Regions from separate parts of the Homo sapiens genome. Here region 2 is linked to region 1. Evidence: fine-mapped expression QTL. Tissue or cell type: tibial nerve. Region 1 holds a variant in brackets; the other region holds the start of a gene. All regions are shown on one strand. Distances are from middle to middle.

The links. PIP is the estimated chance that this variant, and not a neighbour inherited with it, causes the effect.
Region 2: LINC02889 starts here. The variant in region 1 is fine-mapped to the expression of LINC02889 in tibial nerve (GTEx, PIP 0.93).

The regions. Positions count from the first base shown.
Region 1 is chr7:17,491,882-17,500,070 of GRCh38, reverse strand. All of the region lies in intron 1 of LINC02889 (long intergenic non-protein coding RNA 2889), which reads left to right. Among named protein-coding and RNA genes, the nearest start is that of LINC02889, 63 kb to the left of the region's middle. RefSeq lists a silencer at 7,336-7,495. The variant G/C (reference allele first, on the strand shown) is at 4,609.
Region 2 is chr7:17,555,552-17,563,740 of GRCh38, reverse strand. It overlaps LINC02889 (long intergenic non-protein coding RNA 2889), which reads left to right and starts at 4,832. Exons shown (of 4, transcript NR_110013.1): 1 at 4,832-4,989.

The sequences.
Region 1 (8,189 bases):
ATGTAATTTTATTATATTGATTATAAGGTAATTAACCAGTTCCACAGGTTCTAACAGATCCAGTGACCTTTTTCCTAACACAGTTTGGCAATCCCCTTCTCCTTGGTGCCTCTTTGACAGGCATTGCCATCCACATGTCTTTTCTATTATAACCCCCAGCCCTGACTCCCCCTCCAAACTCTTCATCTTCTGGTTTTCAAGTTACTCTACTTCCCATCACTGTGTGCTGTGTCCAGTCCAGTATGTTTTTCTCTTTGTACAGAAACAGCATGATTTGTTCCAGCTCCTTATCCCAATGTGTAGTTTCATTCTTACATTGGGATTTGATGCAAAAGATATTCACCCAGGTAAGGGAAGGGTCTTGAAGTTCAGACTCATTTAAGAAAATTGGCACACTTGCTGAATACCTTGACAGCTTTCTAAAGCAAGAATCATATCAAAAAGCAACAGTTTAAATTTTAGTTTTCACCAGTCTAGCTCCAGTTTCTTTTGCTAGGCTTCTGATTTGACAGCTAAGGCCATAGATGTTCTAGGCAGCCAAATTTGTCAAAATTTTAACAATCTGACCTCTAACAGAAAAGCTGATCTGTTACAGATTGAAAGAGAATACAATTTGAGATCCATGTGAATTCCTTTTTTTCCCCCCAAACTATTTACTCATTATACGTTTAAAGGTCACCAGTATACAGCGGTGTTTCAACTATCTGGGAATTTATTCACTGCTGGTAACCTAAATGCGGCCGCTCTGTTTTTCATTACTGGCTGGTATTTTTAAGTCTGAGCTCTGACCTTCTAACTTAGAACAAAATAACTTGGTTTCAACATTCTCAAACATGGCAAAGAGGTTTTTTATTCCCAAGATGACCACAGGAACCGATGTCATGGTATCTCCTTCAGTAACCAACATTATTCTAAACAAGAGACTCGTATTTTTGTCACATTGGGCTAAAGATGAAGCCACCTTTGCAAAATTATAACTCAGGAAATGATGACAGTGAAAGAAATCAGACCTAACTGCCTCCATCTTTCTTCTAACCTTTAAGCTGTCCTTGTTCATTCCTGAGCATAGGCTGAACTAACTTTGGGAAGGAAGTCAGTTCATGGTTTGACTCTGAAACACAATCGATAATAGTCCTTTCCTGAAAAGCCACCCCCCCCACCCTTCTTGCCTGGGGATCAGTCTATCTTTGCAGGACTAACAAATTAGCTACAAGATTAGAAATTACAGTTTAGGGGTCATGCAGCCTCTGGCTGCAAAAGTCTGAACCTCTCCAAATTGCTCCTGGGGATAACATCACTATTATAAAACTTAAGATCAGTGCTTGAGATATTTCGCAGACCCTACACTGGATGGATCAACTGACACCACCCAGACCGGTAATCTGGCTCAACCAGTTCTGCCATCCCACCCAGGAACAGAAAACAGCAAGAAAACCTCACATAGACCCCCTATGATTCCATCTCCAACCTGACCAATCAGCACTCCTCACTTCCCAAGCCCCTACCCACAAAATTATCTTTAACTACAGGAGACAGGAGTAATAATAAAACTCTGGTCTCCCGCACAGCTGGCACCGCGTGAGTTACTCTTTCTCCACTGCAATTCCACTGTCTTGATAAATCAGGTCTGTCTAGGCAGCGGGCTAGGTGAACCCACTGGGAAGTTACACTGATAGGTGAAAGTTTCAGTTGAAACATTGCCAAGTGTCTGTTGGAGCAGGATAATATTGTCTCTTTCAATAACTTGTTTTTATTCTCTCTTTAGAAACAGTTCTTTGGATGGAAGAATAAAGTTATCAATAGTTTTAGCTGCTTGGTGGGATCACATGTGATTTCCATTTGTTTGATGAGGTTTTTCCATGTTTTAAAACTTGTCACTGTAAAAATGTGGGGCTTTTTGTAATTAAAAAGAAACCTACCAGATATTACAATTATAATTAACGTTGTCGTTAGGCTTTTTTTTTTTCAAATGAGTGGTTTTTTATCTGTCATTCTGGGCAACGGTTTTGAGGAGGAAATTTGCCAAGACTGTAGGGCTTCTCACACTTTAATATGCATAGTAACCACCTGGGATGTCATTAAAATGCAGTTTCTGATCCAGCAAGTTTGGGGTGGGGCCTGAAATCCTGAATTCATCTTATGAACTCCTTGGCAATGCTACTGCTGCTGCTCTGATAACCACACTTTGAATAATACCGCTCTGACCCTTGGTTTTTTTAGCTGGCACCAAAATCACCTGGAGGGCTTGTTGAAATGCAGTTTGCTACTCTTCCACCTGCCCCACCCCATGACTGATTGAGTATATCTGGGGTTGGGCTTGATAATTTGCATTTCTAAACAGGTTTCCACGTGACATTGTTGCTGCTTCAGGAACCTCATTGTGGCTGCTGATCTAGAGCCCTGTTAATCAAAGCCTTGTTTCTGGACCACACCAGCATCACTTGGGAGCTTGTTAGAAATATAGAATCTTAGACCCTACTCAGACCTACAAGGGTAGAATTTGAGAAGCACTACTTAGTCTCTTTGTGCCGCAGAATCAACAACTCAGCTTTAGCTTGTTAGAATCAACTGTGGAACATTTAAAAATCCTGATGCCCAGGCTGAACCTGGAACAGCTTCATTAGAATCTCTGGGGCTAGGGCCAAGGCATCATTAGTTTCTAAAGCTCCCCAAGGGATTCCAGTGTACAGGCATGTTTGAGAACCACACTGTAGATGGAACTGAAAAATCCAGAGAGAGTAATCTTGTTTCCCAACAGAAGGAGACTTGGAGGACTAATTTTCCCTGTTGCCATCCTATTAGACAGTGTGTCATCAGCCACTGGACCAACAGGAAACACTTGGGGCCCAAGCATTAAATTGCTTTGATCACTGGATTTTTAGCAGCCTGCATACACATATCGGCTTTGTTGTTTGGCCTTACTTTGTTCTAGCTTCGTTACATACCAACTGGAGCTAACCTCTCCTGTACTCTGTCATCTCTGGGCTAAGACCTTAGAAATATAACCCATGGGTCATTAGCTTATTTCCCCACCTCACTTTCATTCAAAAGGTATATTCTCTATAAGATTTTAATGGGAACAGAAAGTTCTCCTGCATGGATAGGTCAGGATATAGATTAAGCTAGAGAGAGAAATAGTACATAATTTTACAGATATGAGATGATTTTTGCAATGTATTAAATAGAACAAAATACTGTCCTTGAGCTCATATTGGTCATTTTCCCTAAAAGCACAGTTAGGTTTTGTGTGGGCATGTGAGCTGGAATATTTGCCATTATAAGCCTGTCCTAATATTCTCCAGTTTTAAAACACTAGGCAAGCCAAGTGTTTGTGGTTGATGGTTGATTTTGGAAAAAGTCATTTATTACTCACCTATGAAGAAGTGTTACATTGTTATTTCCAAGGGTTATAAAGGCTACATTTAATTCTGGATAATGTTGAAAGGATGAGCTACCTTTCTACATACAAACCAAAGGAATTCCTGCGTGGATAAGAGCTGTGATCTATTTTGTTTTGGCAAGAAAAGCATAGTTTATGAAGAGAATTGAATTTATTCCAAATACCCTCCTCAGAGACGAGAAATATGTTTGAAATGTTGCTTCCTTTGTACCTCTGTCAACTTTTTAATTTATTTAAATTTTTTTGAATCACCTACTACTACCTGTCAGGCTAATGATTCCTGTAAGCTGATACCCATTGTCTGAATTCATAAGTTCCTTTCACTCTTCCTACATTTTCTTCCCTAGTAAGGTGGCACCTGTTGACCTTGCTGCCTGCCTTATTCCATAGAGGAGACTACTCCCAGCACCTTCTCAGGCGTCTCTTTCAGGCTGTGTGTTGTCCCTGTCAAGAAGCTCTCTATCTCTATCCTTATGCCATCTCCCCTGAGGACAGGAAGCACAACTACATGCAGAGTTTCAGATATGCTTCAGTTTGCCTTCTCATTCAGGTGGAAAACAAAATCCCCTTCATAAACATTATTGAGAAAGTTATTGAATAAACAAACCATAAACTATGGCATTTTTATTACATGGAAAACTCAAAAACAAATATCCTTAAGGAATCCTCCTTCATTCCTCCATAAATGTTACTAAATGTTTAACAACTATCTTTGGGGGTAGAGGTGAGAGGCTTGATTTGTGGCATTTGCTAATTTCAGTGGCATAAAGATTCCTATCATGAGTGACTTCAAGCTGTTGCGTAGAGATGTACACAATACACTCTTGCAGGTTATTGTGAGTCAGACCAGGCCCAGCACACCAAAATATTAGGTGCCAAAACATTTGTGATATTTTAGGCTTCCAGATCTCATTTTCCTTTCATTTTCAAATGACAGGGAGACTTATTAGTCAGAAGATGTCTCAAAGATATATATTTCCCTAGCAGGTGTTGTCTTTGTAATCTACTCCTGTATGACTGTTTTTCAGGACGGTTTTAGAATCATCTCAGGAATCTCCAGTACAACGTACTTTTTTGTCTGACCAGCATTCTCAAATTCCTGTAAAACTCAGGGTGAAAAGCAAAACAGCTCAGTTATAATCCAATAGTATATTCAGGAATCAAGGTGTAGTGCCTAAACCGTAAGTCACAGAGCATGAGAATGTTTA[G/C]AGCTGATTTAAAAGCCATCTAAAGTTGTGTTTCTTAAAAAAAGTAAGTCCATGTATGTCCATGGCTAGTGAAAATAAAAATGGAATGGCCTCCTGGACATGTTATGTCTTCTACCCCCTAGTTGAAATCATAAAATCTATGAATATTGCCAACAATTGAGGTTCTACCAATTTTTAGTCTGTATTGTTATAAGAATATTTTTGTTTTCGAAAATCTATTAAAATGCTCAATATAATTTGAAAAATTTATATGCCCTACTCTTTTCAATCTCAAGATTCTAAAATACCTGGCAAGGGAAAAAGCAATGTGACAGATCCCCTATTGTACCTCTGCCTCTCATTGAGAAACTCTGATCTAAAGACTGAGCCACCTGCTAGAGGCCACCTAATAAAACAACTGGTAGTAAGACAGGAGAGTTTCCTGGTCCACCTCACAGGACGTGTGACAGGGATGTGGCTCTCTGTTTGGCTGCTGCTAGCTCAAACCCTTATGGGAGGGGGAGCACAAAGATGGGCAGGTGTGCGAACTAGGGTGAGCGCTTTTGGGCTTTGGCCCCACAGCAGCATCTAGGGCTGGGTGCCTGTGACTGTTGAAGCCCCACTGTTACATTTGCTCTTTTAGCTCTGCAGTCCACAGACGGCTTAAGTGTTAAGCAATTTAGTGGACTCCCCTTGGTACCCAGCTTCTTGTCCAGCGTCCAGGAAGGATCAGGTCATACACAGATTTGAAGGATGAATGCAGGGGTTTTATTGAGCGGTGGAGGTGGCTCTCAGTGGGATAGATGAGGAGCTGGAAGGGGAATGGAGTGGGAAGATGATCTTACCCTGGAGTTTGGTTGTCCAGTGGCCGATCTCCTCTCTGACGGTCCCCAGCCAAACTCCTCTCGGTGTTCATATGCTTCTTCTCTACTCTCCTTCTCTGCCATGCCGCTCTGCCATTCATCTGCTCATCTGCCTCTGGAGCTTGGGGTTCGGGGTTTATATGGGTACAAGATCAAGGGTGTAGTAGGCCAGAAGGCAACTTTTTGGGCGTGAAAACAAGAATGCCTGTTCTCATTTAGGACTGTGGGTTTCCAGGCTTAAGGCTGGGGTCTTTCCTGGTAGCATTCGTCTACTCAGTATTTCCCTCTCTCCTGTCCCTATCAGTGGGGACCACAATTTTTTACTTATAGAAACAAATATACTACCACCCTTCTGATTAGACTTCATATTAAAAGGGTTATGTATGTGTTTTATATATTTCATCCTTCTGAATGGCAAAGTCCTTTGGAAACCAGTTCAGTAACTTGGAAAGCAAAACATTTAACTTAAAGTTTTCATATGTTTTAATACAATGTTTATCTCCAGGTAAATCTCTATGAATAACCCATACAAATGCATAGAAAACTAAACACATTAGATATCGTATGGACTATATTTTATGTTTCTTAGGCTAACATTAAATATACATCAAATTCTCTGGCCCCAGAATAAATAGGTATAATTCCTGTAGCAGGGTACTAAGGAAATCCTATGTTAGCACTAAAATATTACATAGCGAAATGCAAACCTGCTCCTTGTTAATTTAATAGCATTGTTTGCATCTCTCAAGATGCTTTGGGGATACCAACAGTATGAAGTTAACTGGACATAATTATTTAAAGTAATTTACTAATTTTGGTTATATAAGTATATTGGAAATAACAAAGAAGCAATGTATATATGCTGTTTCACAAACCTAGATTTCGCCATTATTTTGTGTACTGGTGTTAGAACATGTGGAATGTGAATTGCCATAAATTGTACTAAAGAAAGTACGGAAGTGAGGCAACCATCATAATTGTTTTATGTGTTTTAAGCTGTTGCTAATGCTTTCCTAGATGTTAACTTTCCATTACATTGTTGTGGTTATGTTATGACATCCTTGCTAGTAAGGGGTAAGCTTAGCAATATTTATATGTTGCTTCTTAATGATTGTATTCCAGTTCTGGTTAGTCTTGCCTTACTGTATAGATGGCTTCTCTATGAGCATAAGGATGGTAGACTTTCAGGAGCAAATTAATGCCTACAGGATTTGCATATTTCTTACTGAAACAATTCTCAATCTTCTACCAGTCCAGTTTCTAACAACTTATGTCATGTGAAATCCTTATATTTATATGAATGTAAATTTTTAGTGTCCTTCCTTCAGAGTTGGATAAACTTGACTTTATAGCTCCGTCACTTTCTCACTGTTAAGTTTAGGCAAATTATGTTCAATCTATAAGCCAACCTCAGTTTTTTGTTTTGGAAAACTGGACAAACACTTTGGGGTTTGTTGTGAGAATTATATGTGAAAATGAGCATAGTCCTGGCACTATGCATATATAACTCATTACATGCTATGCACATATGGGCATAAATACATATAGACGTGCATGTGTATCAATAAATAGAGATGGAAATAACCCTATATGCATATAGAACTTAAGCCTTTTGCATAGTCCTTGCACAAATTGTCACACTTTGCTGCAAATCTTTGGAAACCTTTATAGCATCATTGTTACCAGAGATGACATGCACTGCTGTAAACAAGGAGAATACATTCTTTGATGACCAGAAAAGAATTCCTGTTGTCTGTGGGTGGACATGATAATCTTTTGTAGAGCAGGGACTTTTTAAGAGGTTGGTTCCAGCAAGCTTGTTTCATAGATTCTTACATAGAAATGTCCAGTGATCAAATGAGCTGTCTAAATAGAACTATAGAATGCGAACTGGAGGAGTAGTCAGTATCACCTTGCCAACCCCTTTATTTACACAGTGGCAGACAGAAACCCAGAGAACTAGAAAAATGACATTTGAGGTTTCACACGCTAAAAGTGAGCACAGAATTACTTGCCGTTTCATGTTGACGATTCTGGAAAACTCATTTCTTGTTAGGGCTTGCATGATCTTAGCCCAAGAACATTTTGAACACAATGCCAACCATCCAGCTTGGGGACAAATGGAACAAGCTTCTCAAGATGAACTGTCTAAATATTCAACTGGAAGCTGGGAAACAGCAGTAAAATAGCCAATCATTTTGTTTCACATGTTATATATGATGGTAGATTAATTAGTGTGAACCTTGTGTGGGTAGGAACAGCATGTAGTTCAGCTCTGAACCTTGGCCAATAGGAGGCATCTAATAAATTTATGTCGTGAAGCATCTAGAATACCATAGGTTCCCAATTAATGTGCGTGCAGAGCAATTAGTACATGCTGGATAAATGTTGAATTAAATTTGGGGGTCGTAGGTGTACCAGGCCACTGAACACTATGATAATGATTTTTGTATCATCCACATTTTCAAATTCTCTAACATGAGAACAAAGAAGAGAAACAACGTAAAGTACAAGTTACATACAAATGCAGAACATAGAAATAACATAAGCAAAGAAATCACATTTGGAACATAATTAAAGTCCATTTGTAATGTGTTTGTGTTTAAGAGTTTTATTCTTGGCAAAACAAATTGTTGCTTGAAAGATGAAAGACTTATTTTACAAATGGCTTCAAATGCAATTACTTTCTACAGAGCAATTAGTTACCGATAGCATTTTAATGGAATAATATAAATGAAT
Region 2 (8,189 bases), 64 kb before region 1:
TCGCATTGTGGTTTCTGATTTGCATTTCTCTAATGATTGGTGGTGTTGAGCTTTTTTTTCATGTTTGTTGGCCACGTAAATGTCGTCTTTTGAGAAGTGTCTTCATATCCTTTGCCCACTTTTTGATGAGGTTGTTTGCTTTTTTCTTGTAAATTTGTTTAAGTTCCTTGTAAATTCTGGATTTTTGTCTGATGAGTAGATTGCAAACATTTTCTCCCATTCTGTAGGTTTCCTGTTCACTCTGATGATAGTTTGTTTCGCTGTGCAGAAGAAGCTCTTTGGTTTAATTAGATCCCATTTGTCAATTTCAGCTTTCTTTACAATTGCTTTTAGTATTTTAGAGATGAAGTCTTTCCCCATGCCTATGTCCTGAATGGTATTGCCTAGGTTTTCTTCTAGGGTTTTTATGGTTTGGGGTTTTACACTTGTCTTTAATCCATCTTGAGTTAATTTTTGCATAAGGTGTAAGGAAAGGGTCCAGTTTCTGTTTTCTGCATATGGCTAGCCTGTTTTCCCAGTACCATTTATTGAGTAGAAGAGCCTTTCCGCATTGCTTTTGTCAGGTTTGTCAAAGATGAGATAGTTGTAGATGTGTGGTGTTATTTCTGGGGTCTGTTCTGTTCCGTTGGTCTATGGGTCTGTTTTGGTACCAGTACCATGCTGCTTTGGTTACTGTAGCCTTGTAGTATAGTTTGAAGTCAGGTAGCGTGATGCCTCCAGCTTTATTCTTTTTGCTTAGGATTGTCTTGGCTCTACAGGGTCTTCTTTGATCCCATATGAAATTTATTTATTCTATATTTCCATAAGTTATTGGGGTACAGGTTGTATTTAGTTACATGAGTAAGTTCTTTAGTGGTGATTTGTGAGAAAATACATGCTTTAAAATCTCTTTCAGACATGGGGATTATGATTTTCTCCTAAGTAGTTTACTTTTCTCATATAATAGGAAGTCCAGAGTAGGTGTTTGCTGGCATTGATTTAGCTCCCTGATGCTTCCATCAAAGATCCAGGATCTTTTTATCTTTTAGTCCAATTGTCCTTGTTTTGTTGTCTTTTATCCTTAGGATTGCTGCCTATGGTCACAAGATAGCTTCTGAAACTTCAGTTAATTACAGGATGCCTCATTAAGCAGGAAGCTGGAGGGAATGGGCTATGCCTCTTGTGCCTATCTCCTTTTGTCAGGAAAGCACAATGACAGAAGCCTACCAGGAGACTTCCCTGTACTTCTCATAGCCAGGACTGGACCACATAACTATACCTGGCTGCAAGGGAGACTGGGAAATAAGGAACAAAATTATGACTTGGTCAGTCTAGTCATACTCTATCACCTGTGCCAGGGCACATTGCTACCCCAAGGAATGAAGTGTGAGGGTAAATATTGGCAACAACTAGCAGCATCAGTCTCATAGGGTCGTAGATATATCCTTCTCTACTATGATCTAAGTAGTGCTCTTCTATATAATAGTATAATCCATGCATTCACTAAAAGAGAATTACTTTGTACTCTAAAATTCTTTACAAATGTCAAAAGATGCTGTGTGAAGTATCTTAGTATTTTTATTTATTGATTCTGTGTCTTTTATGTTTGTGGGGGAAAATTCAACTGATTTGTCAAAGATTTGATTACAGATACAGAATACAGTAGAATTATAAACCACCCCTCAAAATTTGTAAATAGGAATTATCATAAAACTTTCATGAAAGCAAAAGATATTTCCAAATTTAAGGTGTGTAGTGTGTTGCACAGGAAATATTGTTGCTCTCACTTTCTTGATTCTATAGCATTTGATAGTGAGCAGATACCAAAGTTTGATTCATATGTCCATGTTTCATCATTCAATCAAGATGTTGAAGTTCATATTTAAAAACAATCTTAATAAATATCTAGTAAACACTTTGTTTCAGGAATCATGCTAGCATACTTGCATGTATATGTACATATGCAAGTTAAAGTCTTCCTTCTCACAACAACAAATTTCTCAGTAACATAGGGTAGGATGTATAAAAAGTCTAAAGCACTAAGTTTGGGGTTTTATTTTGTTTCCAAGACTTGCAACTTGAGTCTTGATATGAAGTAGGAGCCTCTAAATATGGGGTAGCTGGTCTTTTTTAAATAGAATAAAATCAACAAACATAAAATCAAAACGTGCTGTTTTTCTAACTTAGGGATATAGAGACGCAGCAAATATTAGGTAACAATATTTTCCTACTTTTGAGCCAATTGTTTTGGCATCCTGAAAACATAATTTAAGTTACATAGTCAAAAGAAGTAATGCTGTTACATGTGGAAGATATATTCACATACAATTTACATTTCAGTGTACATTCTAAAGACATATGAATCAAAAATGATTGAAGGAAAATAAAGTATCTAGGTTCACAGATATTTATTTTGAAACCATGATCGTCAGGCCTCCATGATAAAGCATGTGCCTAAAAGGTGTTCTGGCTTTCACTTTGGAGATTTGGAAACAGTCTCAGGGACCAGTAACTTGCCCAAATTCTTGCAGGTTTCATAGCCATGACAGCTCTGGCAACCCTAAGGGTCTAAGGGATAAGATTTCTAAATCCACTTCATACAACTAACAGTGGTGCTCAACCATGACTCACATTAGAATCACCTGGAAAGCTTTTTTAAAAATACTAGTGCCTGGCCTCTACCCTATAGCAATGAATCCAAATTTTTGGTATTGGGGTCCAGGCATTGATTTTTTTTTTCTTTTTAAATAAAAACACTCAAAAAGCCAAAAATTTCCTCAGGTAATTTTATTACGCAGTGTAGGTTGAGAAACACTGATTATGCCATAGACCTGAGAATATGATTAATTGGGTTGTTGAATCAGGGTGATCCATAGCTAATGGGTTCTCAAACATTCAGTTCATGTGGTATTTCATGACCTGAAAGCAAATGCAGACAAGTTTTTTGTGTCTTATTTGAAATGCTGTTGTCAGACAGTATCATCTTTTCCAGCTATTCTTCTCTTTTCATTTTCAGGTGACTCATGCGGAAGAGTGTGCTTGCTTCATGTTGCAACTTAGTCCTTCACATGGTTGTCCCAATGCCCCATTTACCTTTGTGGCCATTGGCACAGCCTGGAAGTTTAGAACAATGCAAGTCATCTTGACATCTAAAACGTGATTTCTGGTAATGCCTTAGGAAGTAGTTTCAGGTTAATTTGTATTTCCAAACCGCCTCGGACTCCTTCCTGAAACAGATTAAAAACTGCGTATTGGCAAAGAGTGAGGGGAACTAGGTGAGGGGGATTGGGCTAACACTGGCTCCTTGTGATTAGTCCTGATTTAAATGCTGGAAATGACAATGGAGTTTGTTTATGGCTTTTCTCACCCTGAAGATATCTTTACAGGAATATTTATTTGAACACTAACTGGGTAAAGATTTACAGGGGCTCAAACAATTCTTTTTCAAGGAGCTGAGGGCCTAATTTTTATCATACACATCAATACATTTTTTTCCTTACAGGAAATGTGTGGGTGTCTGGGCTTTTAAAAATTGTATATCATACTCTTCTTTCTTGCCTCAATGTTGCTTTGATAAAATGATTTACTTGAATCTTAAACTGATTATTTACCAGCTATAGGACTTGGGAAAAATTGCTTAACTCCTATGAGACTGGGCACAATCATCTCTGAAGCAAAGACAGGGTTATCTGTGGCTTATTGTGGTTGCAGAAATTAAAGAGATAATTTTCAAAAAGCACCTAGTACAAAGTCTGGGTTAGGTAGTTCTCCAATAAACATAATTTATCCTCTCTTCCTTCCTCTTCCGTCAAACAGAATATATTCTCCAGAAGAACCTGATATAAGTGGTGTGTACATAAATGAGAATTTGTCATTTTTTAATTTCCTCGAGTATTCTGTAAGAGTAGACTTTAATAATACAGTTTTATAATACAGTAATACAGTTATAATGTTTGCCATGTGCTTTACTATGAGAGTTGTTGATTGGATGGCTTGTCTTCTTTGGTAGAATTCAGTATCAGTGAGTGGAAAGGTTATTTTTGCATGTGGTTGGTCAGGCAACAGAGAAGTCACTCCATACAAGCAGCTTTCTACTCTGCATACAAGGTAGATCCAGTGGAAGTCACGTTGAGTGATGTGTTTGTGCAAACAGCAGTTAATGACCATGTAGGATATCCCATCATCAGAGCTCTATCCCAGCTGACTCAGAGTAGGATTAATCATGAAAGCCTGGATTTAGATGTGTGTCTGAAGATACATGTGTGCTGGGAAAGAAATTAGGCTGGACTTTTATAAAAATTGTTACAAAGAAGCAACAATAATTAGAATAGAAAAAATGGCCTTCAGCCATTTAGTGTCCTGGTAGACATGAACCAACACAGCCCACTTCAGGCTGGCAGATGTGAGAGAATCTGTGGAAGGGAGGCTTGAACCGTCTTGAAAATATTTCCCAAAGCCTCTGCTGCTGGGATACTGGTCAGAAGTGCCCCAAGTCTGTTTATCTGGAGACATGGAACGCTTTATTCAAGGACCTGTGGAGAGAAGGCAGACAAGACTGTAGAGTCTGCACTCTCATCCTCTTGAGGGCACACCTTATTTACAAAAGGAGATTTAGATTACTTGATCCCATAAATCTTGGCATAGAGAAACTCAAAGCAAATATTTATTCTACAAGGATGGGTTAGCAGTGTTAAGGTACTGAAATTTACCTTGTACAACTTTAAAGAAGTTTATTGAGTTGTTAATGGAATAGCATTACCTATGATTAACTAATGTTGAGAAACTGTTGGCAGGTTCCTGGTAAATATTTAACAACACTTATGAATCAGACAACAGAAATGGAATAAAATTCCAAAAAAGCTGTAGTTTTTTCATTTGGCTTGAAGTCAGTATAGAGAAGTTATTTAAAATAAGATTTTCGTCCCACGGAATTGTCCCCTTTGTTATTGTATATCCTTCAGGTTTATGGGACAGCACTAGAGGAAAGTGACAGCCTCAGAGGACCTTCAGGTAAGCTGGCTCCATTTTGGTGACATACATATAGAGGCATAAATACCTGGTTTTTACTGAGAATACCCTGGATAATTATTAAATTGGATTTGGACTAAGGAAGAAAAGGTCTTCTTGCTTTTCATTTTCTCTCTCCACATGAATGTATGTATGTGTGTGTATGTATGTATGTTTTTATAAAAATATTTGAAACTTTGAGCTCCTGAAATCCTAGACTTGGCTTCCTTGAACATGATTGTTTTCTGTTGAAAATTCTTTTCATGCCAATTCTATCTGACTAGTTTCAACTCTTCGATAACCAGGAGTCTGTAATAGATGATGTCATAGGGGTCTAGAATATTGGCATCTGACTTCAAACAAGAGATCAAAACTAATTTCGAGACAAGTTCCAAGTGTGTTCGCTAACTGCTATAAAGAGCACTAAACATTCATGATTCATTTAACTGTGTCTACACCACATAGAATGAGTGGAGACTTGCTACTTTTCTAGTCATTTATTATCCACCTATGCTGACAGATCCCATTAATCAGACTAGTTGGTTAATTGACAGATCTCCATTTTGCTTTTTGTTTATAGATAGTTCTGGTGTATAGATGCCAAACGTGGTATTCTATCATTGTGCACGATTCTTAAGATGACTTTTGGCCAGTCTAAACACTGCCTAGGAGTTGTTTATCATGCTTGATTTACTACTCCTCCTGAAGCATGTATACTATTAATTTCTGCTTGAGAATTTCCAACAAAGCAAACATTTACACAAAGAGGGTGATTCCCTTCTGGCTGTAGGGATGGATCAAGACAGTGGTACCAAAATAGATATGACTGTGTCCAAGTTCCTGAGACTTTAATCACATTTAATCACTGTACAAGTTGTGCTGGGAGGAAGGAAGATGTGGTGTCTCTCTGTGGCTGCACAATATATCTTGTCAACTCTTCAGCGAAGCTACGTACATGGCTGCAATAAAAGGGCTACCGTGTGTGTGTGTGTGTGTGTGTGTGTGTGTGTGTGTGTGTGTTTGTATTTTTCCAACTTCATTTACCAGTTTTTAGTAGAAAGCCGTATTTTGTGTATTTAAAAACACTGAGAATTGGGCAAGGCAAAAAAAAAAAAAAAGATGTTAGGATAAAGGAAAATTTCCCACAGGAATTACCAAGAATTTATCCCACAGAGGAAGTCCTTCTCAATTGCTTCTTGCTCATGGAAATATTTTCACCTGCCTTGCCAAGGCCTTGATACTGATATCTGGAAGGTATTAAGCAATCCAGAAAGTTTATTCATCAACTTTGATTCATCTTAATAAGAGAGCTTAGAAATCAAAGTTATTTCCCTCCTTCCTGCAAAAAGTTCAGGATTTGTAATGCTAAATGGCTTGCTCCCTACTTAGAGCAAATACTTTAGTCAAATTTGATATATTGACTCATAACCCACACATTAGAGCCAAACATGTCCTGTTATGAAAAATTAAGACTCTCTCGACACACAACTTGGCTCTGAATTTGAACCCAATAAACAGTTTTTGTTTAAATGCTCCATTTGAAAAGTAAATTAAAATACATTAGAATAAGTGTTTCTGATTCTCAAAGATATCACTGGATCCAGGGCAAAAAATCCTGCACATGTTGGGCTTCCTCTCTGAAATCAATGCCCTTCCTTAGGGCTTCTGAACCAATGGATATGAATTTGAGGCTGGGGTAATGGCTGTGGTTGTTGCAAAAAAAGAAGAGAAGGGAATTGAGTCTGTCTTACAGAGGCAGATCCTGGTCTAGTATGAAGAGCATCATTGATGCTTTGAATTGAACCTGAACTCTAACACCTCAGAAACTGCCACAGTTCTAACCATTAGAACCAAAAGATAATTGCCCAGATGGATGCACTGTGCATGATCTGCAATCATAGCCTTTTGATAACTATAAATCAGCAATACTAAAAATACTGCTTTTTTTAACCAAAATATTTGAGATCCAAGGAAGAGCAGACTAGCAGCTAACTCCTAATAAAGGCAGGCTTCAAAGAAGTTACCCAATCAGACAATATGTTGCCCAGTTTTCTGCAAGAAAAAAGGTCTCTCAAACTTAAAAGCAGAGTTTTTTTCCACTGAAATCAAGAGAATCCTTTAGGTTATGGGGACATGATATTAATTATTTGGGGAACTTTAGATCTTGGCTATTTTTAGACTTACTTTTTCTGTATCTTTAAAAAAGTTTTCTAAATAGAGATGCTTTCATTTCTTGTAAATGTCAAAGCCACACTGCAGCTGTCTGCCGTGTCCTCAGAGGTGCTTGCTCCCTGCTCACTTTCCCTGCAAGGTCAAGTTGACCTTTGAGTGCTAAAGCCAAGGGAAAGCAGGCCCTGGTTAGAAGCAGCTAGACTGTTACTGGCAAAGTTACCATATGGCAGCAGGCTCTGCTTAGCATGGAGAAGAAATAGGAAATCATGGATTGTAGAAATGAGTTTGAAGCCCATGGAATCTGGGAATCAATTGTATATTCATTGAGTAACTCAATGTTGTTTTCAGCACGAGTACCTACTATGTGCCACACACAATTCCACACTGTTTCTTACTGCCTTTGGCCTCATAGACTGTTATGCCTTGTGTCCTTCCTTTACCGCTACTAGCAGCAGCATGGCCTAATGGAAAGTAAGAGGGGTTCAAATAAGAGCCCCAAATTCATATTTGAGCACTGACCTTCACTTGTATGACCTTTGGCTACTTAAATTACCTGAACCTGAGATTCCCGATTTATAACACAGGAATACAAACATTGCCTATATTCAAAACCATTGATATGCTTAGTTAATTTTAGCTAATGATTTTTTTCTGGAGTTTTTAGACATGAGAAAAATATTTAAGGGACATGGCAGCGGTAAAGAAGAAATAAACAGATGTAAGTTTGGAAAATAGTATTTGTGAGGGGAAACCAGAGGCCAGATATGGCACAGGCAGTTTATGAACCAAGGTGGGTGGGTTGGGTTGCCTGGGAAAGGATTTTAGAGGCATACTGCTAAATGAGTCAGTTATATCCAGAACTGGTGTCCAGTCCTTTCTGCCCTGACCCAACTTTATGTGGTTTGATTGATAATAAAGCAGTCATTTTGATCCTATTTACCAGAACCACCTGTAGCAAAACAGAGCCCATCCTTTGTGCATGAGGTAGAGTAGGCCTGTACTCTTGGTGAGAGGACAAGTGGTTTGAGTAG